2 linked regions of the Homo sapiens genome follow. The protein of the gene in region 2 interacts with the protein of the main gene of each other region in a pairwise test. Each region holds a gene or a part of one and is shown on either strand. Other genes may lie near its edges.

What was found. Proteins that work in one complex are often made in the same cells at the same time.
Region 1: the proteins of KCNK4 (region 2) and DIDO1 interact in a two-hybrid assay, tested with the Homo sapiens proteins (one large-scale study listed by BioGRID and IntAct).

Annotation. Positions count from the first base shown.
Region 1 is NC_000020.11:62,924,339-62,928,080, forward strand, and holds the start of DIDO1 (death-inducer obliterator 1), read right to left. Parts: upstream 2,168-3,742; 5' UTR 2,101-2,167; exon of another isoform or gene 2,094-2,100; intron 1-2,093. UniProt on the Homo sapiens protein: Putative transcription factor, weakly pro-apoptotic when overexpressed. Tumor suppressor. Required for early embryonic stem cell development.
Region 2 is NC_000011.10:64,289,706-64,293,447, reverse strand, and holds the start of KCNK4 (potassium channel subfamily K member 4), read right to left. Parts: upstream 2,147-3,742; 5' UTR 1,882-2,146; intron 1,727-1,881; exon of another isoform or gene 1,663-1,726; intron 1,451-1,662; exon of another isoform or gene 1,330-1,450; intron 507-1,329; 5' UTR 430-506; coding exon 241-429; intron 1-240. UniProt on the Homo sapiens protein: K(+) channel that conducts voltage-dependent outward rectifying currents upon membrane depolarization. Voltage sensing is coupled to K(+) electrochemical gradient in an 'ion flux gating' mode where outward but not inward ion flow opens the gate.

The DNA of each region.
Region 1 (3,742 bases), on a different chromosome or scaffold from region 2:
CCTGTTAAACACTTTCAATCTTAGCTCTTCAAGAGCCAAATAAGCCACTTGGTATTATGGGACAGGCATATAAAAAGGAAAAACGTGTCTTGTTTACAGAGATTCCAAACAATGAAGACGTGGCACAGCTTAAAAATAAACACTGAAGAGAAGCACCCTACTGGGCTCCACAGAACTGACCTTAAGGGAATTATGACCCTAAGGCTGTAGAAAAACTCACAGTATCAACAGCAGAACCTGCCAACTTCACCGCGAACAAAACGGGAGCCAATGCCCATTCCAATCATTTCCTCCTTACATGAAGAAACCCCAGCACCCTCCAAGGCCCAACCGATGATCCGCACGTCCTAGACAAGCCTTTGCGAGGCTCACATATGCACATGCAACATGGGCTGGGCTGTCTGGTAACCATGGGTACGGCTGGGCAGTCAATCACAAATTATCTTATTTGTGCCCTGTCTTCTCACCACAGCACAATGAGCTCTGCTTGACATAGTCTGAATTCAATCAACTACTAATAAGGGACAGCCTCTGGTGGAAAGCCTGAAAAAATTCAAGATACGCGCTTTTCCAAAACAAGAGGTATCTTATGAAACTTGCTGAAACAAGTCTACAAGAACAGACATCTCCTCCCCATGTACACAGCAAGTAGGAAAACAAGTGTGCATTAAGCAGGGAGTTTCACAACAGGGCTGTGTCTGTCTTCCTGGGTGACACTTCTGAGATGTCTATGCCGTATTTAAAATAGTGAAATAGTCACAGACACACATACACTAACAGCAACCCAAAGGGCCACTAAAGAGCCCTAGGCTCCAGGTAAACGAGTTGGCAACACCTGATTTAAAGGAAGGAGCTGGAATAATCTCTCAAGTTCCCCAGTGAACTTGTCTCCAGGACTGGGACAGGGGCCACCTTGGTCACTGCTGTATCCCTCGTGCTAACAGTAAGCAATGAATGCTCATTTAAAAAAAGACTGTATTTACTCCTTAAAAGGCACTGCTAAGGACCTTTCTCAGAACTGTATTTCAACCAAGTCATATGTGGCCCTACGGAAACCATGGAACACGGGGTATATAGCAAAGTTATGTGAATATACCGAAAAGACGTTCCCATCTGCCTTTCCCTCCTCTAAGTCCCTGAGTACACTAGGCTCAAATCTCATTCCATCAGCAGACAGATGACACGGATATCGAAGGCCCAGGCACAAGTTAAAGAGTATTTTCAATAACTGGTAACGCAGTAAGCTACTGCTACCTGTGGCCCAAACTCTAAACTTATATATTAAAGTCCTTTATTTAGAGCAGAAAAGCCGGCCTTGACCTCCACTGTCTCAGAACCGCGAGAAGGAGCCCCGGACGCCGCAGCGGAGGCAGCACGAGCACCCCTCCCGCCGAGCGCAAGAGCGGGCCCTTTCGGCTTCCGGGGTCACTGGAAGGCAAAATGTGTCACAAATACGGCCAGTACAAACCAACGCAACAAACTATTCCACAAAAAAACTGAAAACCAGCGCGGGGAGGTAAGGACACACTCTTCAGAAAAGCGAATCCGGGCTCTTCGCGCTTCCTGCAGCGCCAGCCGCCCCTGCAGTGCCGGAATCCCCCGAAGGCACGCCAGAAGCTAAGCCGGCCACCCCGACCGCACCCAAGGCCCGGGAGGAAGCGCCGAGGTCCCCGAGAATGCCTAGGGAAACCAGCTGCGCTTACAAGCCAGCTACGCAGCCCCCGAGCCCCGGGCCGCACTCGCCCAGGCCAGCCCTGCGCTCTTCCCCGCGAGCGGCCGCCCCGACTCCCACCCTCGGAACCGTTCCAGCCGCGACCACCGAGTGCTCGCCAGTCCCCTCGACCTCACGCAGCCCACCAGGGCCGGCGTCTGAGGCCCGCGCCCCAGGCCGCGGCGGCTCTGACCGGCCCCGCCCGCTCGCCCGCCCGCCCGCCCGCTCCTTCCCTTCCGCGGCCGCCATCTTCTCGGCGGGAGCGGCCTGTGCGGGATCCGCGGCTCTCGCCAGCCGGGCTCCGATGCCGGCCCCGCCCCGCTCCCGAGGGCGGCCCAAGCGGCGGCCGGCTCTTCTACCCGGCGCCCGGGACGCCACTTACCGCAGGCCGCAGGCCTCTAGGGTCTCGCAGCCATTTCCCCGAACGCCGCGGAGTGGGCGGACGGCCACCGAGATGGCGCGGGGCTAGAGCGGCGCCCCCGCGCGGCGGGCGGAGGACGAGACCGGCCACCGAGACGCTGCGGGGCTAGAGCGGAGCCCGGGCTGCGAAGCCCGGCCCCGGACTGCGCGCATGCGCCCGTCTTTCATACCTGCACTCCGGACGCGCCCTTCGGGTCTGCACTGACAATGACTTGCTTGCATCCTTTGTGGACACCTTATTTCCCCGACTCCAAGAGTGAAAGCTGGGGCAGTGCCCTTGCGGGGATCCCTCGGAACAGCCCGGGCAGGGCGCAGGCGGAACGTGGATGCTAGCCCCGAGGGACTGCACTCCGCCAGGATTTCGCTCTTAAGACCGATAAACCCTTCAAGTCGGTGGGGATAGAAAGCTCCTGGGCTAAATTTGTAAGAGGTGTAGGGGGGCGGGGACAGGGGATAAAAGAAGAAAAGGCCCAGGTTTTCTCTTCCAGATTGTGTTTCTCAAAACGCAGGCCCCTGACGGCCTCGGCTGGGAATGGCAGCGAGGGGCGAGGTCCAGGTGTGGGCGGGGTTTCTCTCCAACTTGAAGACCCTACCTGCTGCCTCCCCACCCCAAGCTCGGCTCCAGAAACCAGGAGCGTGGGGGTGGGGGGGAGAGAAAGGAGCACAGCGAGGAAGGGAGGCGGGCACGCTGGACCTCTAGGCCCCAGGGACCTTGGCGGTGTGGTCCCAAAGCTCTGCCTCCTCCCACCATGTCAATCCTACACTCAGAACTACTGACCAGTAGCTAGAACTCAAAGAACGCATGGACATGTTTGCCCACAGGGGTTGGAGGGAAAGATTAGACACTTACTATCAAGAGAGGGGAAAGTGAGGTATGGTAGATGTCAACCTTCCATGTGGATTTTCTTCAGTTCGCTCAATAGTAACTAGAGTGACACTCTATCACCTGTCTGTCCCCAGATACTGCAGGAAAGAGACTGGGAGGGGGCAGGAGGGGCAGCTGTTGCCTCGAGGCACCATGGGCACTGGCCACTTGCTCCGAGGGCAGGGACCTGGGGGGGGTGGAGGTGGCCCCATTACTTGTTTCTGCTTCTGTGAACAGTGATACGCTACCTGGAAGCATGGACCATCTAGCCTTTGGCGTTGGCCCTGGCCAAGAGTAAAAGGGGCCCAGAGTGCCGTAAAGCTGCCCCTAATACAGAGGCTTCTGCGATGCTTCCATGGATGAACCAGGGGCTTTGAGGCAGGTGTGCTTTTTAATAATACCGCTGAAGATTACAGGGTCTGCTAGTTTCTGAGGCAGACTTAGTTTTCTTCAAAGGAATACAACGCAGCTTGTTTTTGCTGGTGTGGCCCATTAGGACCACATTAATAGAATCTGGCAGGGATGGGCTTGACAGTCTTCCATCTTGAGTGTGATCTCAGGTTGCAAAGAGGGCTTTTTGCTCTCAGACATGGGGTAGTGGGAAGCTTAGAAGACAGACGGGGTTGAGACCACCTTTAACAAGCAGTGAGATCTTGGGCAAGCTCTCTGTTAAAGGAGGGCTCACATGCTGAGGCCCAGGTGAAGACCACATGAGGCCTCCCTACAAGAGGCTCTCTCTAAATCCA
Region 2 (3,742 bases):
TGAAGGAGACATTATAGGTGCACAGTCCTGTGCCAGGCTCTCCAGGAAAACAAATGACCCCACAGTTGCCCTATTGAAAACACAGAGACCTGGTCCCCAGCCTCTGTCCCACAGCCTCCCACTGCACCCGTCCTCAGGGATACTGATCTGAAAGCAGCACTGGCACAGGGCCTCACTGGCACACAGCTAGCGCCAGGGGTGATGGGTGACAGCTGAAGGGGCTGCGGCCCACCCACGCACCTTGATGAGGAGGCCCAGCTCCTGGTCGCTCACACACGGATGGGCCCTCAGGAACTTCTCTCGGACCTCCCCCAGCTCCCTCTGGGCCTGCTGCTCGTGGGGCTGCTCCAGGGCCCGGAACACCAGGGCACCAGACACCAAGTAAAGCAAGACCAGCGCCAGCAGGGCCAGGAGCGTGGTGCTGCGCATGGCGCGCCCAGGCGCCGGGCCAGCTCCACTGCCCGCCTGGAGGGGCCGGGCGGGGGGCTCCTGGGGAGCTGTCGTCACTGCGGGCAAAACCAGGGATGCTGGGGTCACTGAGCTGGCCTGACACCCACACCCTCCTCCTCTATCCCCTACACACCCAAAGATCCATAAAGCCCCCAGCTGCACTGTCCACAGACATCCCTCTGGCTGGACACACCCAGTCCCCCTCCTATCTCCAGCCTTCCCCTTACCTCCGCTGCCCGGCCCTCAGCCCCTGTCTGGGACTACCGGGTGAGGAAAGAGAGGAGGGCACCGAGAAGGGAAAGGAAGGCGAGTGGGAGGCCGAAAGAGAGCCTAAGCCTGCCTAGGGGGAAGCGGGGCGAGCGAGGAAATGTGTGGAGCTTGGTGGGGGTGCGGGGAGCTGGCCCTCGAGGAGGAGGCTGAGGGGGCTCGGAGGCGTCCGAAGGGAAACCCGGAGGAGAGGCCGGACAGCGCAAGGCGGGGACAGGGGAATGGTGGGTCCCTGCTCGCCCGCTGCGGCTGTGACAGCATCTCCGCGGCTTCTCCGTCCCCTCTCGCCTCGCCCTGCTTCCTGGCTGGCCCTCCAGGGTGCCCCCGCGCCCCGCCGGGCTTTCGAGGAACCCAGGGGCGGGTCCCGGCCGCCGCACCCAGGCGAGGAGGGGTGCTGGGGACGCCCAGTTCCCGGAAAAAGCGGGGCGGGGGTCCGCAAAGGCCACACCGGGGCGACAGCCCCCGAGACAGCTGTCAGTCCGAGACAGCGGGCGGCGGCGCCCACGCGCACACACGCCCCGGCACGCGCCGCCAAGCGCGGGCACAAAGACCCGCGCGCCCACGCTCCATCCCGAGGCTGCAGCGCCGCGCCGCCCCGCTGCACGCACGCACCCCACCTGCACTCTCCGCAGACGCCCCGGCATCCCCGGCCCCCATGGGCGTGCCGGCCGCGCCAGGGCACCCAGAGCCCACGCACACGTGTGTGGACACTAGCGTGCACACGCCAGACAGCAGGGCCACCGCGCAGCGCCCGCAGCTCGCTCCCACCGCCTCCCCCGCGTCCGCACAGCGACGCCTCGGAGCGTGGCGGGCGGCGGGACCGGCGGCCACACCACTCCCGGAGGCGCCCACGCGCGAGAGGTGGGCACCCCGCCCGGCCAGTCGCCCCTGGGGCGTCCCTGCCCCTGAGTCCTGCCCGCGCACCGGAGCCCGCACCGCACTTACTGTCGGCCCCGCTGCGGCTGCGGCTGAGGCCCGGGTTCCAGCACGGCCTCGCCGGTGCCGACTGGGCCGCGGAGGCGGCAGGGGCGGAGCGGGCGGCCGCCGGGGCTGGGACCCCCCTCCCGCCGGCAGAAGCCCCCCTCCTCCCGCGGTTAACCCCTCCGGCGCCGCGCTTCCCTCCGTGCAGCGCCCTCGCCGCCGGCGCCGCCCCAAGCCGTTTACCTGCGGCCGCCTGGCTCCCCACAGCCGGCCAGCCCCGGGAGGTGGGTGGCAGAGGAGCCGGAGAGGGGTTGCAGCAGGGGCCAGCCTTCTAGCCTTGGACCGGAGCCCAGTGTGGCCAGCGGCAGGGCCCCGACCTGGGCATCAGCTGGCCCGTCTCTCCGGACAGGCACCACGCTAATCTGGCATCTCCCAGGCCCATTACCGGATCGGGAAGGGTCCGCAACTCTCCGCCCCTGGGGACAGCCTGGCCCTTGGGCTCAGCACTCATGAGGGAGGGGCTCCGCGGGACAAAGGGGTGGGGGAAACCCGGTGGGGCCACCTGGAATTGGCCGACGTGGAGGTTGGGACCCACCTCTGGGGGAGTTGCTGCTGGAGCACCTCCTGCCCCCACTCCAGGTTTTGGCCCTCTACCTGCTCCCCGGCTATCCCTCCAGGGTGCTCCCTGCCCCAGCTTTTGGTTCTCACTTCCATGCCCAGAAATCAGCCCCGGAAGGCTGTGGCTGAAGCTGCCTGCAGATCCCAGCATGGCACTGGTGCCAGCATCCACTCTCCCACTGCCTGAACACCCAGGCCCTGGCTGGTCCTGAACTTGCCCCGCCCTGTTCTCACCCACTTGACAACCTGTGACCTCTCCAAAGACCCTCTGGTGCCTGCTGGGGTCCTCAGCCCTCATGCTGGATGGCTTTCAGCCTGGGCTTTGAGGCTGACCACCCGCTACTGGTAGGGAACCTGAACAGGTTACCAAACTCTGGAGTCTCCCTGTTCCCACTTACAGAAAAGGGATGATTAATCATCACTTCGGGGTGCTGTTCTGGGCATTAAGGAGGCCAGTGTTTAGAAATCCTCAAAACAGAGCCTGGCACACACAATAAAGTGCCCCACAAACGTTAGCAGTTTTTATTTCAACAAAAAGTGATTGTCCAGCTTCAAGCTGATTCTCTATGAGTCTCAGATGCCCTCTCTGGAGGCCCTGAGGGCCTGGTGCCCAGGATGGTCCCAAGTAAAGGGTTTTGAAGCAGGCCCAGTGATAAGCCAAGGGAACTCTGAAAAGCTGGGACAACCACCTATGTGGGCAGGGGACAGACCCTCCAGCAAAGGACTCCTAGCCATCAGACAGACCTGCCAGGGCCATGGAAGCAGAGGGCAGTGACTATGCTACTAAGGACAGTGGAGAAGAGGGCTAACGGGAGGGCATAGCTAGGGGACCACCTGTACATCTGGGCAAACCCACGCCCTGGTAGGAAGATGGGGGCTGCTCAGTCACTGCGCCAACTCCCCAGCAAGCCCTGGACTAACTCCTGACTCCTAAAGACCAGGTTGGGGTGGTGATAGGGAAACAGGGCCTCCAGAAAGTCTAATCCATTGGGGTTAAGACTCAGAAGCTGCCAGGCATGGTACCTCATGCCTGTAATCCCAGCACTTTGGGAAGCTGAGGTGGGTGGATTGCTTGAGCCCGGGGGTTCGACACCAGCCTGGGCAACATGGTGAAACCCCACCTCTAAAATTAAAAATTAAAAAATTAGTCAGGAATGGTGGCATGTGCCTGTATTCCCAGCTACTCGGGAGGCTGAGGCAGGAGGATTGCTTGAGCCTGGTAGGTTGAGGCTGCAGTGGGCCATGATCGTGCCACTGCACTCCAGTCTGAGTGACAGAGTGAGACCCTGCTTCAAAAAACAAAACAAAACAAAGAACCTCAATGGCCACATAATCAGTAATGTGGAGCTGTGGGGCCCAGCAGAGGGGCCATGTCCCTTGACCAGGAGACAGAAGGCTTCCTAAAGGAGGTAACAGTTGACGCAGGTCTTGAGGAAAGAGTAGCAACTGTTCAAGTGGAGAGGGATCTGGAGGTAGTGGGGCAATT